4 separate regions of the Homo sapiens genome follow, and all the other regions are linked to region 2. Evidence: fine-mapped expression QTL. A gene starts in region 2. Each other region holds a variant in brackets. All regions are shown on one strand. Distances are from middle to middle.

What was found. PIP is the estimated chance that this variant, and not a neighbour inherited with it, causes the effect.
Region 1: its variant is fine-mapped to the expression of CDC40 in pancreas (GTEx, PIP 0.93).
Region 3: its variant is fine-mapped to the expression of CDC40 in whole blood (INTERVAL, PIP above 0.99).
Region 4: its variant is fine-mapped to the expression of CDC40 in neutrophils (BLUEPRINT, PIP 0.95).

What each region holds. Positions count from the first base shown.
Region 1 is chr6:110,387,161-110,393,048 of GRCh38, reverse strand. DDO (D-aspartate oxidase) reads left to right here. Exons shown (of 5, transcript NM_001372108.2): 5 at 1-1,265. The coding sequence ends at 274. Among named protein-coding and RNA genes, the nearest start is that of DDO, 25 kb to the left of the region's middle. The variant C/T (reference allele first, on the strand shown) is at 3,227.
Region 2 is chr6:110,177,790-110,183,677 of GRCh38, reverse strand. It overlaps CDC40 (cell division cycle 40), which reads right to left and starts at 3,251. Exons shown (of 15, transcript NM_015891.3): 1 at 3,045-3,251. The coding sequence starts at 3,233. It overlaps WASF1 (WASP family member 1), which reads left to right and starts at 4,008. Exons shown (of 11, transcript NM_003931.3): 1 at 4,008-4,239; 2 at 4,936-5,080. RefSeq lists silencers at 3,979-4,088, 4,329-4,648.
Region 3 is chr6:110,109,998-110,115,885 of GRCh38, reverse strand. It overlaps WASF1 (WASP family member 1), which reads left to right. Exons shown (of 11, transcript NM_003931.3): 5 at 2,426-2,560. Among named protein-coding and RNA genes, the nearest start is that of WASF1, 67 kb to the left of the region's middle. The variant G/TTG (reference allele first, on the strand shown) is at 2,992.
Region 4 is chr6:110,329,422-110,335,309 of GRCh38, reverse strand. All of the region lies in intron 1 of METTL24 (methyltransferase like 24), which reads left to right. LOC102724586 (a long non-coding RNA gene) reads right to left here and starts at 56. Exons shown (of 5, transcript XR_428004.3): 1 at 1-56. RefSeq lists an enhancer at 4,710-5,210. The variant G/A (reference allele first, on the strand shown) is at 2,813.

The sequences.
Region 1 (5,888 bases), 210 kb before region 2:
CAGAGAGATTCTTTCCCGATGCTGTGCTCTGGAGCCCTCCCTCCACGGAGCCTGCAACATCAGGGAGAAGGTGGGCTTGAGGCCCTACAGGCCAGGCGTGCGACTGCAGACAGAGCTCCTTGCGCGAGATGGACAGAGGCTGCCTGTAGTCCACCACTATGGCCATGGGAGTGGGGGCATCTCAGTGCACTGGGGCACTGCTCTGGAGGCCGCCAGGCTGGTGAGCGAGTGTGTCCATGCCCTCAGGACCCCCATTCCCAAGTCAAACCTGTAGATGACATAAAATGACAGCAAAGAGACTGAGAGACTGTTGATCAAAGCACAGAACAGGTTCAAATAACTTTTCCACTGCATGAAAGTTTAATTAGACATTTCTTTGTTTTCAACATTAGAAGTGGTGTAACATGTAAGCTGAGCACGGTGGCATGCCTATAGTCCCAGCTACTTGAGAGGCTGAGGCAGGAGGATTGTTGAGCCCAGGAGTTTGAGTGCAATCTGGGTAACATTTTTTAGAGGTGCCAGTTCCCACCTCTAAAAAAAACACCAACAACAAAAGAAATGATGCAACATGTAGGCTTACTTAGGAAGTCCAGCATTAATGGCATAGGGCATAAAGCTCTATTTTTTGTTAAAAATACTTCTTATAGAGTAAAATTTATTTAGAACTGATGTCCAAGGACCTATGCAGATTTATATGAATGTTGGAAGCTATAGAGATTTTGATATCATTTGGCTTATAAATCCACAGGAGGAGATAATGTATGGAAAACATTTAAATCACTGTCAATTGCAGAGCTGCCTGTGATCTTCTTAGGTTATAGCCAAGTCAGCAACATAATTCCTCTAAATAAAATTACATTGTGCTCACACAGTGCTGGATTATTACATTTAATTGAAGACAAAGCATGCTTGCTCCTAGTACTAGCAGCAAGCTTTTCCTCCCCTCAGCTGGTAATGATGGTAGGAGACAGAGATGAAGTTGCCTATGTATGTCATATCAATTCAATAGCTGCCTGGGGTCAAACACCTAGGGGTTGTACATTCCATTACTGTAAATGATTGAGAGCTGGTTTGTGGTATGGTTGGCTTTGCCTAAGCATTTTTGAAGATGAACAGCATGTGCAGCCAAAGAACTAATTTGCTAATTAAGGTGGAACAATCATTCTGAATGAAATATAATCAGAGTACTCCGCAGTTTGTTAAGAAGTATTGGGGAGGAGGGGAATGTGTCTCACAATAAAATGAGTTGGAATTGTTGAGTTAAATGAATTTAACCTGTTTTTTGACTCAGGCCTACTCAGAGCCTCTAATGTGTGCACGTGTATTGTGAATCCTCTAGAGAGCTTGGGTGGACGGAAAATGAAGTGCTGGTATTGAAGTAAAGAGGCTTGAGGAGGCTGGGCACGGTGGCTCACGCCTGCAATCCCAGTACTTTGGTGCAATCCCAGCACTTTGGGAGGCTGAGGTAGGTGGATCACTTGAGTTCAGGAGTTCAAGACAAGCCTGGCCAACATGGTGAAAGCTCGTCTCTATAAAAATACAAAAATTAGCTGGGCATGATGGTGGGTGCCTGTAATCTCAGCTACTCGGGAAGCTACTTGAACCCGGGAGACGGAGGTTGCAGTGAGCTGAGATCGCACCATTACACTCCAGCCTGGGTGACAGAGCAAGACTCCGTCTCAAAAAAAAAAAAAAAAGGCTTGAGGAGAAATGGATTTAATTTTAATATTTGGGGAAGACGACTTCTGTTAAATGATACAGTAAGTTATATTTTGGACATCCTGAGTGAGATACAGGGTTGCCAATGAAAGTGTGGGAAAGAGAAAGCTCTTAGCACAGCTACAGCTTTACTGTTGCGTTCATTCAGAACTTGCATATGATTTTGTTTGCAGAGAACATTCTGCTGGTAGACAGTGAGAGAAGCCCACCAGTGTTTTATGCAGTCATAATCATTCCTTGCAGTATTAACATTCTCAAGTAAAATCAAGTGTGGGCTCTTTTCTATAGATTTCCACCAGGGGGTGGTGTTGTATCAGATTCAGATACATTGGTACATTCAAAAATTTAGAAATGACTAGAAATGAAAGATGGATACCAGGTATATAGAGTGTGCGTGCTTCTTTTGAGGTTTTGGAGTTTATATACTCCAAGTGCAACTCTTCTGAATTCTGTTTTAAGTATTTGAGAAATGTATAAGTTTAGACAGACTGGAAACACATATGCATCATACATAATCTGTGAGAAATAAAAGGTTATGATAAAACAGCATTTTTTAAAGGAGGAAATAATTTTTTAATAGTTAAAAATAAAAATGAAGGCCACTGTTCAGAATAGGTAGAATTTCAGTCATTTCGAAGCAGCTTTAAGTGTACTCCTTTGTTCACTATGCCTGTGGTTCAGATCCTGTGGCATTTTTATTGTGTGTTGTGGGCTCACCTTCTATGACCTTTGCCTATTTGTTACTCTAGTTCAGCTTCACTCTGCGTTTTATATTTCTAAAGTGCAATGCTACAAGAGTGCAAGACTGGAGGCTTCTTGAGAAAGTGGTTGTGGCTGCATGCCCTGATTTCATTTTCACTAATTGCTAAATATTGTTCCCAGTGTCTCTGAAACATTATTCATTTTGGTCAGTAGCTGCCAACCTGGGCTGCAACTTAGAATCACCTGGGAAGTTTTTAAACAATGTTGATGCCCAGGCCTGCTTTATGAAATTAGAATCTTTGGTGGGTGGGGCGGAGCTGCTGCATCAGTGTTTACTTAAAGCTGTCCACAAAGTTCTGAGAGCCAGGGCTGAGAACCACTGAGCACTACTTCCCTCCCCTCCTTCTAGGCCCCCACTGCTAGCGTCACCATTATCCTTCCCTTCCTTCCTCGCCATCTTGGGGCATCGAGCTCAGAGGGATGTGCTCACTTAGGCAAGTGTGTCCTTAGGCACTTCTGGGCAAGGTGGCCTAGAGGAATTAGCTGTCCCAAAATAGCTCTCTAGAAATACTGGAATCACCTTGCTGGCTATCAGTCAGCTGCTCCAAGACAGCTATCTGTCTTTATCTGAAAGACAACAGACTGAATGTACAAATGGACAATGGCTAGACCACATATAAAAATAGAACTCTGGCCCACAAGCTGCAGCAACCTGCCCAGGAAACCAATTCCCTTATCTACAATAAACAACACAGGAAGCCAGCCTGCTACACAAGTATATCAGACTTGCAGGAAGCCATATTGC[C/T]ATCTCTAGAAATAATCCAGAAAGATAAACAATAACTTCTGTAACAATTCACACAAAATGGCCAGGACTTGATTAATAATTGACAGCATCCCTAATTTTTGCCCCCACCTCTAACTTAGAACAAATCAGAGAAAAAAAATATGCTTGCCCCCACTTCTAACTTAGGACCAACCATATAGGATGCTTTGCTTCTAGTTAACTTGCCTACAGTGTCCCCATGCCTATCAGGACATATGTGAAGTCTTCTCTTTTTTCTGTTGTGAAGCTTTCTCACCCCTCTGCCTACCTTTGAATCTCTGCCAAATGTAAGTGTGATGGGCTGACTCCCTTGCTATAGTAAAATCTAAAGAAATAGCCTTTGCATTTCTCATTTGACTGGTATATTAGTCAGGGTTCTCCAGATAAACAGAACCAGTGGGACATATGTAGACATATAGAAAGAAATTTCTTATGAGTGTTGGCTCACACAATTATGGAGGCTGAGAAATCCCATGATCTGCTGTCTGTAAGCTGGAGGCCCAGGAGAGCTGATGCAGTTCTAGTCCAAGCCTGAATGCCCGAAACCCAGAGGAGCCAGTGGAGTAAGTCTGAAGGCCACAGTGCTGAAATCCAGGGACAGGAGAAGACAGATGTCCTAGCTCAAGCAGAGAGCAAATTTGTCCTTCCTCACCTTTTTCTTCTATTCAGGCCTTCAACAGATTGGATGATGTCCACTCACATTGGTGAAGATAATCTTCTTTACTTAGCTTACTGATTCAAATGCTTATCTCTCCCAAAGATATCCTCATATATACACCCAGAAATAATGTGTTGCCAGCTAGCTAGGCACCCTTAGCTCAGTCCATTTGACACATAAAATTAACCATCACAGCTTATCTTCATTTACTTCAAAGATTTCAATGTTTATATAAGTTGAGGTCTTCCTGGGTAATCGGTGCTACTGCCTGAGAATAGACTGCTTTATTTTTTCTTTCTTGTTTTCTATTTCAGAACATCTTTTATTTTTTTCTGAACATGAAGAACAACTGATTTCCTTCTTAAATCTCTGCTTTCAAGTGTCTGGCCTTTGTGGCTGAGTGTCTGCCTGCTGTGTCTGTGACCCAGAGGAACGAGGCTGCTTTGAGCCCTGTCATTGCCAGCGTGTGCTTCTTCAGCAGGCAAAGGTTATGCACAAAGTTTTAGGATTTTTTTTTTAACTTTTGGGATTTTATTTGCTTAGGAAGAAAAAAAAAAGTTTAACAGAAAGGCCATAGCCCAGGTGGACACAGTTGTATAGAAGAAAGGCTATTTTTAAAAATGACATATATTCTTCCTTTTATTGAATAATGCATTCAAATCAACTGATATTTGAACCGGTTTTTCTCAATCAATTAAAAGCTTTTAGAAAAAAGGAAGAAAAGGATGGTGGAACATGTGTCCACTGGGAGTTGTAGTTCTTAGAAACCTGTTTCAGGACTTTCGTAACTTGTCAAATATTTGAAATAAATGTAGCATTTTTTTTATTTCTCTCGTTTTTCTTCTTAAGGGTGTGAATGATGGAGACACATTTGAAACCTGCTTCCTCAGGATATCATTCACTCAAGAAAAGCCAATTGAGATCTTTAAGTGGTCCCTTTCTTCTTGAAAAATCTCAGCAGTTTGCCACAAGGCCTGGGGGTTTTATTATTCTAAGTAACTTTGCTGCCAATAAATCACAGCCCTAAGTAGCCAAAGGGAATGCATTAGCCAGATCTCTTATAAATATAACCAATGCTTCTTCAATTATTAGCAGAACAATTGACTTCCATCTACTCAAGGCACCTGTCAACCTGGCCTGCAGCCATGATTCCCACAATTCCACCTCCCAGAGCCTGTTCCCCTTGAATTATAATTTTTTTTATACTGGTGCACATTCTATGGTATGAGCCCAGGACCCAATTTTTCATGTATCCCGGTATTTCTCTTCCTTGCAGATCCAAGTCGTCTGTCAATGGAACTCAACCAGTGTGGTTGAAACTCCACATGGTCTTTTTGCTCTGCCCAGGACTCCTTTCCTGGGAAATCTGCTCAGACCTGGAAGATTCACTGTGTGGGCAGTATCCCTCAGGCCCTACCTCTCTGGTTACAGCTTATTGGAGCAGAGGAAACTGTCAGGTTTAGGCCCCATTGCAGGTAACAGAAACCCCCTAAATATTTGCTTAAACAAGGTGGTCATGTATTTCACTCACATAAAAGAAGCCTAGATACAGGCAGTTTAGGGCTGTTGTGAGGTCTCCAATGGTCATCAGTGATCCAGGCTCCTTCCAGCTCATACTATGCTATTTCAAGGGTGTGGCCCTTGTGCTCACATCCAAGATGGCAGTCAGAGCTCCAGCACATCATTATATCCACTCTCCAAGGACAGTTCCCAGAAGGTTCACATAACACCTTTGCTTGTATTTCACTTCATAGGATTTAGCCTCAGGGTTACACTGAGATTCAAGGGAAGCCGGGAATGTAGTCTTTTGTCTTGGTGGCAATGTAAAAGTCAAGGTTTTAGTAGGCTCTGCAAAAGTATCAAACTATAAATTGAGTTAGGTCAGTGTTTGGGCTCTGAAACTGAAACCCCAGAATATGGCACATTGACATGCTGAACTGAAGAAGTCTCAAGGTCTGTCTGACCTTCTCTACCCCAATCCTGTCT
Region 2 (5,888 bases):
ATCTCCCTTGGTCATTTTCCAATTTTCCAATCATTTGCAATCATTATATTTACTATGTGTAAGTTTGTTTTCCCTTCATATAAACAAGTGTTGGTTCATAAACCAACAATGAGCAATGCCCTCTACGCTCTCATAGAACCCAGACCACTGGGTGGACTAGCCCCAGCTCTACCTCTAATGGACTTCTGGTACCTTACGCAGCCTTTCCTCCTGGGTTCCCTTATTTATTCGTGATTGCACTAAGTGAGCTCTAGACAAACACCCCCATCCCTGCCACTGCATGTCCAGCTCTAAAATTCTGATTCTTAATGTGCATACTTTTACAAGACTTTCTTTTTCATTCCATTCTCTTACCAAATATACTTCCCTAATCTTGTGTACTAGGCACTGGAGACACAAACGAATGGATACAACAGTCTCTGGACCCCAGGGTCTCACAGTCCAGAGGAAAGAAAAAGATGAACAAGTTACAGCAATGTGCTAAGTGCTATAGTTAAGATATGATAAAGGGGCTAAGGTAAAATAGGAGGAAACATATACACTGAGACTGAAGGACCACAGTGTTTGGAGTGGGGGAAGGAGGCACTAGGCAAGGGATTTCCAGGCAGAAAGACTAGCGTGGGCAAAATCTTCAGAGGAAGAAAGAAAATTCGGCTTTCAGGGCTTTGTAAAGAGTTCAGCATGGGAGAATAGCAGGACTCACATGCTACCAAAAAAACTTAGAAATCACCCATTGGACAACATGGTGTCTTTGGGCAGGGAAGTGATACGATGTAAGTGGAATTTACAAAGATCATTCTAAGTGCACTGTGGAGAAAAGAATGGGGTATAAAACTGGGAGACAAGAAAGGAAGAAGTAGAAAGATCAGTTAGAAGGCTACAACTGTCTGAAGAGAAATGATGAGAATCTGAACTAAACAGTGGCAGCAGAAGAGAGAGATTTGATGAATATCATTGAGTTAAAGTGGACAGAACCCACTACCCAAAAAGGCTGAAAGAGAAAGAAAAGAATAACTCCTGGGAGAAATAAGGAAGATATGAAGCCTGCACCAGTGAAAATAGCAAGGAAGGAGTTGATGTGAGAGAAATTAATGAAACAGCAATGTTAGAATCAATTGAATGACTAGCTTCAGGGGCTGAGGAAGAAGGAAGAGAAAAGGATACCTTCTTTGTTCTCGGCTTCAACTAGTGGGTGGATTGTGGGATGACAGATCAAAATAGGAAAAACAGAAGTGGATTTTGAGGGAAAGAAAATAATTTTTCGACACACTGAATTGGAGGTGGCTGAGCGCCAACCTGCAAAAGACAAATGTACAATTACTGTGGGAGATTTTTATATACCTCTCAAGATCGTAAGCTAGCAAGGAGGATAGAACTGGAAATAAAAGGATAGCAAGCATTTAATTAGTGTTCATTGTGTGTGGCACTGTTAAAAGGGCTTTACATCTTTTATGACAATTATTATAATTCTGTTAGATAGGTACTACTGTTATTCCTACTTTACAGATCAGCAAAAATTAGGTACAGAGCATTTAAGTAACTTATCCAAGGTCCCCAGGTGGGTAAGTGCTGGAGGCAGGATTTGAATTACAGTCTTAATTCCAGAGCCTGTGCTAACCATTTCACGGTGTTCACCTTGAGCTAGAAGCAGCACAGCCTGAGGTTGAAGGTATGGGAGAATATGTGGAATGCAAAGAGGACTAAGAGCAGAGTCCTGGGAAACACCAGTATTGAAAAGGGAGAGTAAAATAATTGGAACAGAATGCTGAGTAGAGCCCCATGGAAGCGAAACGGAGAGAAAGTTTCAAGAAAGAGGAACTAATGAACAGTGTCATTTGATGCAGACATTTAAGTCAGATGGCTGAACTTGACAACTGGAAGGCCTGGGACATCACTCACAGACAGTAGTTTCCCAAGAGGATAGGGCCAGACTGCATTGGGTTGAGGAGAAAATGAGACGAAGACAAAAAGAGAGCTCCAAAAAGCTGAGCTGTGAAAGGAGAAGACTCAGGAGGTTACTGGAGGGGCTTAAGTTTGGAAAGTTTTGTTTTGATAGGAAGTTAGGAGGATTCTAAGCATTCTTTCATGACAGATGTCCATTTTTAAAAAGTAAAATTCACATACAGCTTGTTAAAAACCTGTAAAACACTTCTTAAGTCATTAAACTAGACTTGGGGACATGATACAAAGGAATTTTTGGACACCGCCTCCCCTCTTCACATCTTGAGCTGATCACCTACCTCGGGCTCTACTGGGCCTACACTACCAATTGGTAGATGCTCTCATCAGGCTCCAGACACATCAGCTTTTCCTCAGTTCTTCAAACCCACTAGGCTCTTTGCGTTCTCAGGCTTGCCTGTCACCTCTGCCTGGAAACTCTTGCCTTATTAATCAGCTTCCTCCATTGAGATCATGCAGCTGTTTCTCAAATCCAAGGCCTTTTTCTCACTGTATTAACACACACAATCATAAAACATTTACTGCACTCTCACTAGTTGGCTCTGTGCTATATGCTTTATTTGTGTAATTTCACTCAATTTTCACACTCATCTTTTCATGTAGACAGATGTTTTGAAAATGATCTCCACTGTACAGGTGAGGAAAGAAAGGAGGCTGCATAACTTGTCCAAGTTCACACAAGTGGTGGTGCCAGGATTAGAACCTAGTTCTTCAAAAATAAGACAAATCGAGGCCACTGCTCACACAATACTCTAGTTTGGGAAGTCCTGATCTAATTTCACTTATGTTCCGAGATTACACCTGCACTTTCCAGGCTATGTCCCTAATCCACAAATTCAAATTTCATCCCCTCCTTCCACTTGCTTTCTGATGGCGGGAGGCAAGGGCAGAGAGCATCGGAGGGCTATTCCGAACTTCCAATTCTGCCTCTCCCGAGGATGCATGTGGGAAGGAGAAGAAATTCAAACGTTAGCAACTTATCTCTGAGCACTGAGAAAGAGGTAACCCGGTACCTAACAAGCGGCTGGCAGTTCTGGAGCTGAAGCCAACAATTCCCACACTGCATTAGTAGCAAAAGTGCTTACCTTAACTGCCACCTCCGGAGCCGAGTCCACTGCCACTGCTAGAGACGGCTTTGATGAAGGCGATTTAGTCAAGTGCATGAGGGAGTCGGCGGCTGGCAGCGGACACCGACTGCTCTCACTGTCCGAGTCCGATTCGGACCCTGAACCCGAACCATAGGAAGCGGCCAGAGCTGCAATCGCAGCCGACATGACGGCAACAAATCTTCTGCGGAGACCCTGCCAGGGCGGAAGAAGAAGAGGCTCCCAGGTCCTGACAGATTGCAATGGAACACATCATTAACTTTCTTTGCTAAGAAATAATGTCTTACATTTTGAAACAATAAGCTAATTATTATTAGAATAACTACTGTCGAGCTGAGAGCTTAAAAAAGTTTATCTAGGGAAAAAGGGAGAATTATAATAGTTTATAACATTTAGGACCTAGTTGACTAAAGAATATGAGTTCCAAAATACCTTGAGGCCTCGCGGTCCTGCACTCCCAGCGTGCAGCGCGGCAGGAAGCGCGAGAGGGCACAATGGGAAGTGTAGTTTGCAACGAGGGGGCGGAACGGGGGCGTGTCCCCCTTTGACCCCGCCCCCGAATGGATGTTCCATTCAATTGGCTATCATCTTCCCTCATTCCCTAGCCAAGCAGTGTTCTCTTCGTCCCCCTCCCCCAAACTGAGGATTGGGCAATACCACAGAACCTCAGGAAAGGGGGGAAGAGCGAGCTTCGGCCCCACTAATGGGGGAGTGGGCGGAGGCTGGATTTCCCACCTCGGCTGCACCTGGGCACTGGAGGCTGAAGAGGAAAGTGAGAATCTGAAGTTTTGAGACCTCTGACTGGCCAGGAATAGCTCCTGGGGCGGGGGGCAAGGATGGGACCATAGGCGGAAAGAGTCTCGCGGTCCCCCCTGCTTCTGGCGCGGGTCCCTGCGCCCGGTTGTGGAGCGTCTCGCGCGGGGAGGGGGCGGGGGGAACGGCAGCTCGCGGTGTTGTTCACTCGCGCGTCGAGCACACGGTGGGTCCGGCGGCGGGTTGGCGCCCCAGGCGGCGTTCCCTGTGGCCTGGCGCCTGGGCCGCTGCCCTGAGCGGGTTCCGCCCCAGAGCCCGACCCTCCTGGGGGCTCTAGGCGGAGTCCCGCGAGCCGAGGGGGACCGGCGACCGCTGCCGAAGCATGAAGAAGGGGTAAGGCGTGAGCCCCCAAGATTTCACGGTGAGCGCGAGTCCCTGAGGAATTGCTTTTTTCGGGGAGGGGGTGTTGGGAGAGGAACTCTTCCTTACTGGCCGGAGCAGACCGAGTGGTGTGTGGCCCGCAAAGGTGACGGGGATGGATGGGCGCGCCTTCCCCGCCCCGGCCCCCACCCCCATCCGCGGGTTTTCCGAGCGCCCACCGCCCACCCGCCAGCGGGGCTGGGTGCCGAGGGAGACGGCGGCGGGCGCGCCTGGGGCTTGGCTGCAGGGACCGCCCCGGGGCTGCTCTCGCTGGAGAGACTGTGGGTGTCACCTGAGGTGCCACCGCCCGGGCTTCCCTGCCCACCCGCGCCCGCGGTCCGCCCCGTGCCTCTTTCCGGGGGAGGCGGTAGCCCCGGGCGACAGAGAATCCCCTGCTCGCCCTACGTGCGCGAGGCTCGGTAAAGCGAGCTCGTGCGTTTGCGTGTTTGCTCCGCGAGTCGGTGTCTGAAAACATAACGGTAAAGCGAGTGCGGGCATCCTTTTCTTCGTTGGAAGGGGAGGCGAAGCGGTGCTGTCGCTTCTGGTGCCTGTTCATGGGGGCTGCCTTGGGCAGAGTTACGGAGCCGCTCACTCAGCGCTCATGTCGGCAGGACTCGCCCATTGTGCCACCCAGATAATTATTCAACTATGCAGCATCCATTGCACCTTTCCCATTTTTCTTTTCCCCTTGCTACAGCATGCCCCCTAGCTTCGGTACTCTGACACCTTCTCTTGCACTTGCGGATGATGAACTGGAATAACGATGAAAGAAAGCACATCCGATCTCAACATTCACGTCCTGCCCTATAACCGATTAATTAATTGATCCCCAGCTAGACTAGGTACTTAAATACGACTTACTCTAATCATTTCCTTTTCTATGTAATAAGATGTGCGGTGGATTCGACTTAAATTTTTTCTTTGGTGTTAGATTCACGATTAGCTAAGGTCTTTTTTCTGTTCACTAATTGATGTAATTGACTTATTGGTTATTCAATCCGTCTAATGTTCTTAAATTTAAATTTGCATGGTAGGTAACATTCATTTTTCTGATTGTTCATAGCATTATATCATAATTAGAAATGCAGTCTCAATTTGAACTCTCAGGAACAGTTTATCCTTTATGCTCTAAGTTTCTGTTAGGAAACATTTTTGTTTATATTGAATATTTGAATGAAGTATTTGATATAAAATTTCGGAAGTTTTGAATAAGAAAAGTTTTGTATTTGTTTTTCGGTAGCAGAATATGTCATTACTAATCGTTGCCTTCCATTGAATGGAAGGATTTAATATTTAAGATGAGGATTTTAACCATCATATCAGTCATTCCCTAATTTATCTGATTTTATTTTTTATTCACTTTTTTCTTTGCAATATCATGTATTTAATTACTTGTTTTAGAATCCAGTTTTTTTTTTTCTAACTTGAATCTACAAGTATGAGTAGGCTTCAGTTTTGCGTGATCTACCTGAAGGATGAAATTTTTTTTTTTTTGCAAATATAAGAAACCACTGTTGGTTACTTGATTTTTATGTTAAAAACTGTTTACATCTCATTATTTAAAAATAAATGATTCACTATAAAAAGTAAGTGTTGTATTTTTATAATTTTCCTTTTCCATCTTTCCTTGTTTAAGCTTGTTGCATTTAC
Region 3 (5,888 bases), 68 kb after region 2:
CTATTTCATTATTTCCTTGACTGGCACTGTTAAAAACCCTGTGAGGTCATGCAAAACATCTGGACACAGTTTTCTCAAATTTTATGAATTTGTTTTCTTGAGCTTGATGGTTTTCTTGGCTTTTTCAATAATAACTATGACATCTTTGATGGTATAATCCCTCCAAACTTTCATGATGTTCTCTGTTGGGATTCTCTTCCATAGTGTTGACAGTCTTCCACAGAATACCATGTGTAATGAGTCTTAAATGTCCTTATGATCTAGAGCCTGAATTAGAGCTGTCATGTTTGCGGGCAAGTGGACCACTTTGACACCTTCAGTGTGAAACTAATGGGGTTCTGAGTGGCCAGAGATGTTGTACAGTTATCACAAGAATTTTAAAAGACATTCCCTTACTGGCAAGGTACTTCCTGACTTCAGGGACAAAGCGTCAATGGGACCAATCCAGAAAAAGGATTCTCATTGTCCATGCCTTCTTGTTGTCTTGCCTTCTTCTTTTGGCCTTCTTTTTCCTTCAAGGTTTGAGGTTAGCAGCTTTATAGATAAGGGCAGTTCTGATGATAAACCCGACTGCATTTGCACAAAACAATAGAGTTAGTGTGTCCCTTCCTGCCTTAAATCCTGGTGTTCACTTTTTCTTACTAATAAATGTCCTCTGTAGCAGTTTTTTTTTTTTCTGGAATAGGACACTCTCATCTGCATTAAAACTCTGTTCAGGCAGATATTGTTTCTACTCAATTTTTTTCTTTTTCTTTTCTGTTTTGTTTTTTTTTTTTTCTTTGAGAGAGAGAGAGAAGGTCTCACTTTGTCACCCAGGCTGGGCTGGAGTACAGTGGCATGATCACGACTCACAATAGCCTCGACCTCCTAGGCTCAAGTGATCCTCCTGCCTCACCTCCCCAAGTAGCTGGGACTACAGGCACATACCATCGTGCCCAGCTAATTTCTGTATTTTTGGTTGAGACGGGGTTTCACCATGTTGTTCAGGCTGGTCTCAAACTCCTGAGCTCAAGCAGTCTGCCCACCTCAGCCTTTCAAAGTGCTAGGATTACAGACTGTCATGCCTGGCCAATTTTTTTTTTTTTTTCAAGCAGCATACATGGAAACTAATTATTTTCTTAATGGCATCTGGGAACTCATCTGCTGCCTCTTGGCTGACAAAAGCTGCAGCTTCTCTTGTGACATTTTTGAGGCCAAACCTCTTCCTGAAAGTATCAAAGCATCCTTTACTGCCATTAAATTTTCCAGGTTTAGATCCTTTGCCTTCCTTTTGCTTTAAGTTGTCATATATGGACTTCACTTTTTCTCAAATCATGTTAGAGTCTGTATGTATGCTTTCTTGTAACAGCCATGCACCCACAAAAATTGCATTTTGATACAAGATTAAAAGGTATTCGCAAAAAGTACAAGGTTTTTGTGTCTGCTGGTGTATCTGCAGCAATGGCTTCATGATTTTCCTTTTCTTTTTTTATAATTGCCCTTAAGTTTGATTCATTTATCTTGAAATGCTAAGCAACCACAGCTGTAGACCTCAATCTGGGGTTCATATCAAGCAATTCAACTTTATCTTGTAGTGTTATGACTTTCTTGTACTTGAGAGTACTTCCAGCATCACTGGTGGCACTTTGAATGAGTCTCACAATGTATTCAAGGTTTACAGTATTGCATAAAACATGATGGAAAATACACAAGAACCATGAGAGATTACTTCCTACTCTTATATGCAATTTAGTGGAGAGAGAACTGCTCAAACAGCATTTTAAGTGGATAGTAACAACACTAGAGCTAACTGCAGTATCAACAGAGGGTGGCTATAAAATTGTTACAGTAATACAGTATTACACTTAAATTTATTGTTATGATTTAGTACTATTAGGTTGGCAAAAACTGCAATTACATTTGCACCAACCTAATATATCTTTCCATTTCTTTATATTTCTCTTGACTGTGAATGGCACTATGTATGTTTTTGTTTTGTGTGTAAATTTTGATAAATTTTAACTTTTTATAATTTCTGTATATTTTGTGGTAGTAAATGATAAAATAGTCTAGTATTTACATAGATTTTATGCATTCATATCTTTAAAATATACTTTAAAATTTTTAGTATTTTTAGGCTATGTGGTTCATCTGCAAGTTTTTTCAAATTGTCTCAAATCTCCAAAATTTTCAATGTATTTATTGAAAAAAATCCACATGTAAGTGGACTATTACAGTTAAACGATTTTGTTCAAGGGTCAACTGTAATTCCAAATAAATTCCAAATTCAACAGGTCACCAGTTGTAATATTACATTGTTCATTATTTATCTCTGATCACAAAGTATCTGAGGGCAAATATCATGCTAGATTTCTACTGCTTGCAAAGATAAAAACTCAGTGCTCTGGATGTTAAATTTTATGATATATGTGTCATTTTTGCTTAGGTAAATATGCTGAAGATATATTTGGAGAATTATTCAATGAAGCACATAGTTTTTCCTTCAGAGTCAACTCATTGCAAGAACGTGTGGACCGTTTATCTGTTAGTGTTACACAGCTTGATCCAAAGGAAGAAGAATGTAAGCTTATTAATATTGTATTTTCTTCTACGTATATATTTTAAGTTAGATGAGATGAATGATATACTTAACAGTATTAATCATGAATTTATTACAGATCATACCCATGTCCTTTGGTGTACATATTGTAATAAATCAGTGAATTATCTAAAAATGCCATCAGTATGATTCTCCGGGCTTTTCTTTTCTACTCTGTTTTAAATCTCTTCTTTTTGTACACTAAACAGCTCCTAATTTTTTTGCATAAAGAAGTCATTTTAACCAGACATTTTCCTCCATTCTCTTCATTATCTTTCTCTTTTCATTTCTCCCTTATAATTTATTTGTATACTTTTGTCTTAGAAATAAAAATTATTAGAAAATTACCTGAAATCTTTAGGTTTGATTCTACAAGAATGTAACTGGTTTTTTTTTTGTTTTTTTTTTTTTTT[G/TTG]AGACAGACACTCTGTCACTAGGCTGGAGTGCAGTGGCGCAATCTCGGCTCACTGCAACCTCCACCTCCCAGGTTCAAGCAATTCTCCTGCCTCAGCCTCCTGAGTAGCTGGGATTACAGGTGTCTGCCACCACGCCTGGCTAATTTTTTTATTTTTAGTAGAGATGGGGTTTCACCATGTTGGTCCGGCTGGTCTCGAACTCCTGACCTTGTGATCTGCCCACCTCGGCCTCCCAAAGTGTTGGGATTATAGGCATGAGCCACTACACCTGGCTATGTAACTGCTTTTAATATGCTTTTGTATGTGCATATTGCTAAAGTCTTATTAGTTATTTAACTGAATGCAACTTCCTACTTTAAATGAACATTTCAAAAACAAATTGCCAGTATGTAGGGTGTAAACATTCTATACCAAGATATTAAATCAGGAATAATCAGATAGGCTAAAATAATTGTAGAAACTTCGGTGGTAAAATCATGTTTTATGCCTTGATAGAATACATTGAATGCCGACGTTTCCCAAATGCATCTTTTTGTTTGTTTCACAAAAAGAAATGCAATACTAAGAACATAATTTGCACTTACCTACCACAGAGAATTGTTTAATGGAATTTCTTACACTCTCTTCAAAATATTTTTGTTGCATTAAATAGTATAAACACAAATTATATGATAGATCTAATTTTTAGTATAAATGCAAATTATATAATAGATCTAAACTTTAACAATAAAAATACTAAAGGATGTCAGTGGAAAGAACAAAAATATAATGTAATGATAGATGTCTTAGTGATGGAACCAGCTACTTTTGAAATAATCCAATGTGTAAATAAGGAGAGGCAAATACTTGGCATACTAGATTTGTACCACTTGTAAAATGTAAACTCAGAGCTCTGGATACAAGAAGAAAAGGAAATAATACTTAAAAAATAGCTTTATTAAGATATATTTCACAACCTACGTATACCTTGCAGTTCACCCATTTAAAGTTGAAGTGTACAATTCAGTGTTTTTTAGTATATTCAAGTTATGCAACCGTCACCACAATCAATTTTAGAGTATTTGTATCACTCCAGAAAGAAGCCCTGTACTCATTAGCAGTCACTCTGTTTCCCCTTCAGCTCAACCCCTAGCAATCACTGATCTTTCTGTCTGTATGGATTTGCCTCTATGGATTTGTCTGTATGGATCTGTCTGTATGGATATTTCATATGAATGAATAGTACAGTATGTGGTCTTTTGTGACTGGCTTCTTTTAGCATAATGTTTTCAAGGTTCATTCATATAGCATGTATTTATATCTCCCTGATGGCTAATGATGTTGAGTATGTTTTCATGTGCTTACAGGCCATTTGAATATCTCCTTTGGAGAAATGTCTATTTAATTCCTTAGCCCATTTATAATTTGTATTATTCGTGTTTTTATTTTTGACTTGTTGGAATTCTGTGTATATTCTGGATCTAAATCCTTTATCAAATATATGATTTGCAAATATTTTCTCCCCTTCTTTAGGTTGTCTTTCTTGGTGGTATCCTTTGAAACATGTGCATGTATCAATACATTAATTACACCTCATGGAATTCTTGAAATAAAATCATTGTTAGTGGTGAAAAATATTTTATGGTCATGCTTTCAAATACATAATTTATAGCCAAAATTTGTTTTTCAGATAACTCAACTGCTTATCACTTAAATATAAATTTATGCCATCAAATAATAGAGAAATACACAGGCAGTTCTCATATGTAACAGAAATAAAAATCAACATTTAGTTTCAAAATATTGTTACATTTTAACAAATGTCTTAGAGCCACCATTAAACTTGAAAGTGAAAATACAGATAACAGTAAATAAATTAAGATGTTTGTGTTAAAAAACAAATTTTAATATGTCAACAGCTATACTGTCAGAATTATACCTAGTTTCCTTTAAAATTTTGTGGAGCAGTGGGGGAAGAATTCAGAATCTAAAAGCTGAACTACTTAATTTGAAATTGTTTTGGAGAGGTTGTATTGAAGGAGTTTTCAGTTATTTAACCTAGGTTTTTTAATTCAGTGGGAATTAAAAAAAAAACATCATGTGTACAGTACTAAATAGCACAGTGTGGTATCAGTTTTTTTAACCGTTTTGTAGTAACTAAAAACTATCAATTTTGAAAATATTTTTTAAATGAATTTTAAACAAAGACTTGTACAATTATATTTAAGTCAATTATGTTTATAAGCATTATGCTAATTTATTGCTTTATAATTCTATTTTATTAATATCAGATGTTATTGTTGGCAAGTGGAAGGAGCTTCACCACAATAGTCTGTTAATAATAAGACAAACGATAAATGAGAGGAGTTGAAGATAGAAAAGTACATCATGCTTATTAGTTTACATGTTTCTTACATCCTTTACCAAGGAAGTTTGGCGAGATTAAACACTAGGTTTCATCTTAATTACATACTTATTGATTAATAAGTGGGGCAGGAGAGTGGCAAGAATTGATCCACTTTGACTGCAGAAAACACAACCCACTTCTGGCAGGAGCCTGAGAACAGCGTGTGGTATTGTGGCAAAAAGATTAGCCTCAAAGGTAGACAGATCTGACTTTTCTGTTCTGGCTCTGCTGTTTATTAACTGTTTAACCTCAGGTCAGTTATATACTATTTCCTAGCCTTAGCTTTCTTATATTTCACAATGGAGTAATAATTCCTGTCTTACTGAATTGTAAAGATTAAATGAAATGAAATTTAGTGAAACCATCTAGCACATATAGTATGTACTCATTAAATACTGTATCTCCAGTGCCACTTTTTAGTGATAGTGGGGAAAAACTTTTTGCTTCTCTGAATTTTATTTTAGTATTTATAAGTGTGTTACAGGTCATGCAGCAGTGGAATTGCTAGAA
Region 4 (5,888 bases), 150 kb before region 2:
CTGGGCTGAGGTCAGTTGCCACTTTGGCAGCTTCGCTTCTAACTTTGGAGATTCTTGCTCCCATTCACCAAAGAATCCTGAGTCCAGAGAGTTCCACAGCAGCAAACCCAATCAGAATGGATTGACTTCCAAAAAGGTCTGCTTCCTTCAGCAATTCTTCATGTCCCTGAAAAAGGCCACTTCGTAATAAAGACTGTGGATTTTTCCTTCCATTTAGGGTTGAGGTTGAAATACTTTTGGTTCCAGAGGAGTCCAGTCGACTCTGCCTGCCTTGTTCTGCCCTGGTGGCAGCTTCCCAGAGATTCAAAAGAAGCTTTTATGTGGCTTCTCCTAACTTGTCAGCCACTATAACTTATAGTGCATTCAGACAGAAAAATGTTCTATAAATATAGAATCATGCAAGGAATGTCCTGGAACCAGAGCGTTATCTGTAATTGTCAGGTAGGATTTACTGAGACTACCAAATACTGTATCATTGTCAAATGGCAAGAGAGTAGGATAGGTCAGTATGAAACATGAACAATATGAAAATGACAAAAGAGTTAATGGATGAATGAATGCTGAGAACTGAGAAATACATATATGTATACCTGCACGGTTACGTGCAACCAATGACATATTCAGTGGGATGTGATAGCCTCATGAGGAAACCGCTGCTACTCTTTAACCATGTGATAAATGGTGTGTGGCTTTGCTCTCCCCCATCCCCCAACCCCTGGGCCTGTCTACTCGTGGCAGAGCACTTTATGTCCTGCTTGCTTTTGTCCTGTCTCAGAGGAGAGGATTCAAGCACCATCCAGTGTCTACAACTGGTTTCCAAGAAAGGCTTTGCTTCCCGTCAATGTCCTGTGCCACGTGTGGCCTCTGTCCCCTTGTCAGCCTTTGGGGTGGCTGTGGGATGCTGCTGCTCTGTGTTTTGGGTGCTCTCTGTGGCCTCTGGGATGCATTATTTCTGCCACGGTCCATGTTCTCCTGCGCTTGCTGACTAGGTGAGGCATTTTAATTCTTTTCCGTGATAAAAATGACTTCTGGTTTAAAGCCTGGAAAGGAAACACTTTCCCTGGTTTGAGTGAAGTTGAGACTGATGTGGGCTGAGAGCCACCAAAGAGACCTCGGGGAGCCCTGTGGGCCCCCGGGTTGCAGGTTCTCTCGTGGGGAAGATGGAGATTGCTGTGCAGGTGTTGCGGGAAGACCCCCCTTTCCTCTGTTTTCTCTCAGGCCCCCCTTTTCCTGTTCTCGTCTCCATTCCTCCCCCCACTTTTTTTCTGTCTGGCTTATTTACTTATAGAGAACACTACTCTAAAATGAAAATAGAATATATAACTTCTAAGTTACTCTTATTAAAAATGATGAAATACAGAAAATCTGAGAATGACAACATGTAGAGAGTGGATGGGAAAAATAAAAAGAAAAGCCTCAAAATAAAAGTATAAATAAAGTAATGTAAATGCACTTAAGTGTGTCAGTTATCAAGAAATATAACTATTGAAGGGAAAAGTTTATAAAATTAAATCAACTCAGTGCTGTATACAAAAGAAGTATTCAAAGTAACATAGGTTAAAAATCAAGGCTGGGCGTGGTGGCTTACGCCTGTAATCCCAGAACTTTGGGAGGCCGAGGTGGGCAGGTCATTTGAGGTCACGAGCTTGAGACCAGCCTGGCCAACATGGTGAAACTCCATCTCTACTAAAAATACAGAAATTAGCACCCACCTGTAATCCCAGCTACTCGGGAAGCTGAGGCAGGAGAAATCACTTGAATCTGGGAGGCAGAGGTTGTAGTGAGCCGAGATCATGTCACTGCACTCTAGCCTGAGCAAGACTCCCCTCAAAAAATACATAAATAAATAATAATATAATAAAATAAAAATCAAGTGAAAAATATGCCAATAAAATACAAATCTCAAATAAAAACACGGTTTACAAATATCGACAGACAAAATTTCAAGGCAGGAAGCATTAACTGGAGCAAACTGGTGGCTTTTATGTCCTCCCCACCCTCTGCCAACCCCCATTTCCCTTTGGTTTTAATAGCAACTCAGGATCCCAAGCATCTTTGAAATGGGTTTATAGGGGTGCAGCAGACCTTCCTCCTGAATACACTGACGTCTCAGGGCTGGTAAATGTTTGGGGGAAGGGTAACTGACTGAAGTAAGTCGATGAACATAGCAGATTGGTGTTGATTCAGATGATGTTAAACTTTTAGGATTCTGAGTTTCAGAAAGTCCAGGTAACCTTACGTATTTTGAATAGGGTGTGTATACATGTGGAGGCAGGGTGTGTGAGAGAGACAGACAGAGACAAGAAGAGGCAGAGAGAGAGAGATAATCCTTACAAATATGGTTAGTGTTTTTCTAAATTCCCTTTGCTTTCTTAGGCACACTTGCTTTTTTTTTTTTTTCGATAAATGTTGTCCTTCTGTTGCCCAGGCTAGAGTGCAGTGTTGCAACCATAGCTCACTGTAACCTTGAATTCCTGGGCTCAAGCGATCCTCCTACCTCAGCCTCCCAAGCAGCTGGGACTACAGGAGTGTACCACCACACTTGGCTAATTTTGTAACTTTTCATAGAGATGAGGGTCTTGCTTTGTTGCCCAGGCTGGTCTTGAACTCCTAGCCTTAGGTGATCCTCCCACCTCAGCCTCCCAAAACTCTAGGATTACAGGCCTGAACCACCGTGCCTGGCCGAAACATTCTTATATAAACTTACTTTCATAAGAAAACTGAAACTCGTCCCTCCTTTCCAGGTTGATGTGCTACCTCAATGAAACCCATAATTTGACATCTGAAACTTTACTACGTATGCAGACACTGT[G/A]TAGTTTCCACCTCATGAAAACAAGTGAAAATCTCGGCTTTCACTGGATCCACTCTAGGTATATGGCTTCTGTTTTTACTGCCCATGATAAAAATCTAAAATATATTACGTTTTATTCTCTTAGCCATCCCCTGGTGTGTTTCAGTCTTGCTCACATTTGAACCATTTTGACCTACACAGAAAATGTGGTGAATTTAAAGATGTCAATTTAAGAACAAACTCCAACTCAAATTTGTTTAGCCACTCTTTCCAACTTATCAAAATAACTTAGAGGATAAATCCAGAGTTGAGTGTTTATTCCTTCTTGTCTTATATTTTTTATTCCTTCCTAAAAGTTATCAGGACCTGCTTGAATTATAATGCATTTTTTCTTGTCAGAGCTGATTTGATTTCTGGCTCCCCTGCCTCCCAGCCTACCCTCTGTGTCATGCTGCAGAGGCGGCAGATTGGCGCTCTGGATTTGAATTTCAGCATGCCTGCTGTCTGCTGCCAGAGACATTTAGCAGATGGGCTTGCAGAGAGAGAGAGCTGGGTCTTGACAGGGAGGGGGCCTGAGGGGAAGAGGCTCCTATGGGACGGGCTGGCTCTGCCCGTTCTCACCTTGTTGTTTTGACCCTGGCCCACTACTGGGTCTGTCACAAGATTAGCAGAGGCTCAGTTTTTTATTGTTGTTGTCTTTAATATCCAGCACTTTGCTTATGACACATAAAGGTGTGGAATTCTTCGAGTTTTCCTCTGAGGGGTTTGCAAAGCTTCTTGAATCTTTAGGCTATATTTTCCATCATATTTGGGGGGTCTTTCAGTCATTCTTTCTTCCTTTTTTTTTTTTTTTTTTTTTGAGGCAGGGTCTCACTTTGTCAGACAGGCTGGAGTGCAGTGGCACAGCATGACTCACTGCAGCCTTGACCTCCCAGTCTCAAGCAATCCTCTCACCTCAGCCACCAGAGTAGCTGGGATTACAGCTGGGATTTACTACCATGCCTAGCTAATTTTTATATTTTTGTAGAGACAGGGTCTCGCCATGTTGCCCAGGCTGGCCTTGAACTCCTGAGCTGAAGTGATCTGCCCGCCTCAGCCTCCCAAAGGGCTGGGACTGCAGGTGTGTGCCATCGTGCCTGGCCTCATTATTTCTTTAATTTTTTTTTTTCCTGCACTGCATTCTTTCTTCCCCTCCTCTGGAATATCAGTGACATGAATGCTAGACCACTTGGTATTGCTGCACAGGTCCCCAAGGCTCTTTCCCCCCTGCCCACAATAATTTTTCTCTCTGTTTTTCACATTGGATACTTTCTATTGATCTGTCTTCAAGTTCACTGGCTCTTTCTTGTGTCAAATTCTTTCTGCTATTGAATTCATCCCCTGAGATTTTATTTCAGTTATTGTATTTTCTGTTCTGGAATTTCCATTTGGCTCCCTATGCTTCCTATTTCTTTGCTGAGACTTTCTATCTTGCCCTTGGTTTCAAGCATGTCCACCTTTACTTCATGGATTATTTTGTAAATGTTGCTCTTAAGTCTTTGCCAAAAATTTCAACATCTGTATCAGGCCTACATTGGCATCTGCTGATTGTCTTTTTCCCACATAAGTTGGGATTTTCCTGATTCTTCATATGCTTAGTAGTTTGGGACTGTATCCTGAAAATTTGAATATTATAAGGCCGAGTTTTGTTTAAATACTGTGGATAATGTCGATATATTTGTTTTAACAGGCAGTTATCCTGGTTGGGTCCAGGCCTCAAGTTCCCACCAGCCTCCTGTGGGTTGTAATTTCCATGTCAGCTCTGTTTTCAAAGGCTTGGTAGGGGTTTCACCTCTGTCCCATGTGTATCCCATGTATGCCCAGGCCAGTCTGGGGCTTGGGCAGAGGTCTGTCTGTCTGTTAGCTCCAGAGGTCCATCTATTAGCTCAGTTCTCAGTCTTTGCTGTGCCAGGCAGGATCAGATCCACACATGCACAGTTCTAGAGTGAGCCCAGGTGCTTTACAAATCCGTTAATGGGGCTGCCTTCCCAAGCTACTCCTTCTCCCCAGTTTCCCCAGTATTATCCAGTTCCCTACGGTTTTTGAATCTATGACCAGAAAGTTTGGGCTTTTACCCCTGCTTTGCCTACGCTCTGCTTCACACTTCCTGTGACTGTGCCTGAGTCCAAGGCCAAGCTGCGGGAAGAGAGAGACAGACATAGTCAATGAGGATTCACCCCACTCTCTGGGGTCCACTGCCTCAGAGAGGAGAGGAAACTTCCGTTTTCGCAGAGTTCTAGGTGCCTTCAGGCCCCCACTGTGGCTTCTACCATCTTAGTGGGATTACTTGCAAGAACGGAGAAAGGAAAAAAAAGGAGGAAAAGTGAGGATTTCCTCTACTATCCCTGAGCATCGGGAGACGCCCCGCCTCCTGGAGCCTGAACTGCGGGGCTGCTCCTGGTGCTTCCTGGCTGCGCCAGTGCCCACCACCGGTGCCAGGCAGCCTAGAGTAGGGCGGGCAGGACACCAGAAGGAAAAGCAATGGTGACCTGGCTTCTAGTTTCGAGGTACTTTGAATTCTGGTCTTCTTCTCCAATCTGCCTGCTACTGTTTACTTTTCAGATTCCTCAAATAACCGCTCTGTGCATTCTGTCCAGGTTTTACTGCTGCATTCCGTGGGAGGCGCGGGGTGGGAGTGTGCTTACCCAGAACGGAAACTGAGATCCTTTGTTTTTAAATGAAATTTTTGCATGGGTTACCTGAATTTTAAACATCACTGCACAATGTATAACTGATTCTTGCTCTTTCTGAAGCAGGGCCGGGTCTGAGAAACAGGCCAATTACAGGAGAAGGCTGAGGGGAAGGCACGTGAAACTGCACCCGGCACTCCCCTCGCAGCCTTCAGAAGCGCTGGGCACACACTGAGGGCGTTACAGAAACGTAACGGCAGTGCTCACAGCCTCAGCCAGGGCTAGAGTCATGTTCTGTCCAGATACCATTTTGTGCCTCTCCCTCCCCCAACTACTCCCACCCCCACCCCCTCTAAAAAGGAATAAACAGTTTCCTTCAGTCATTGTTTCCTGCCCACTAACAGATGCTCTTAATTAGCACAAAATTG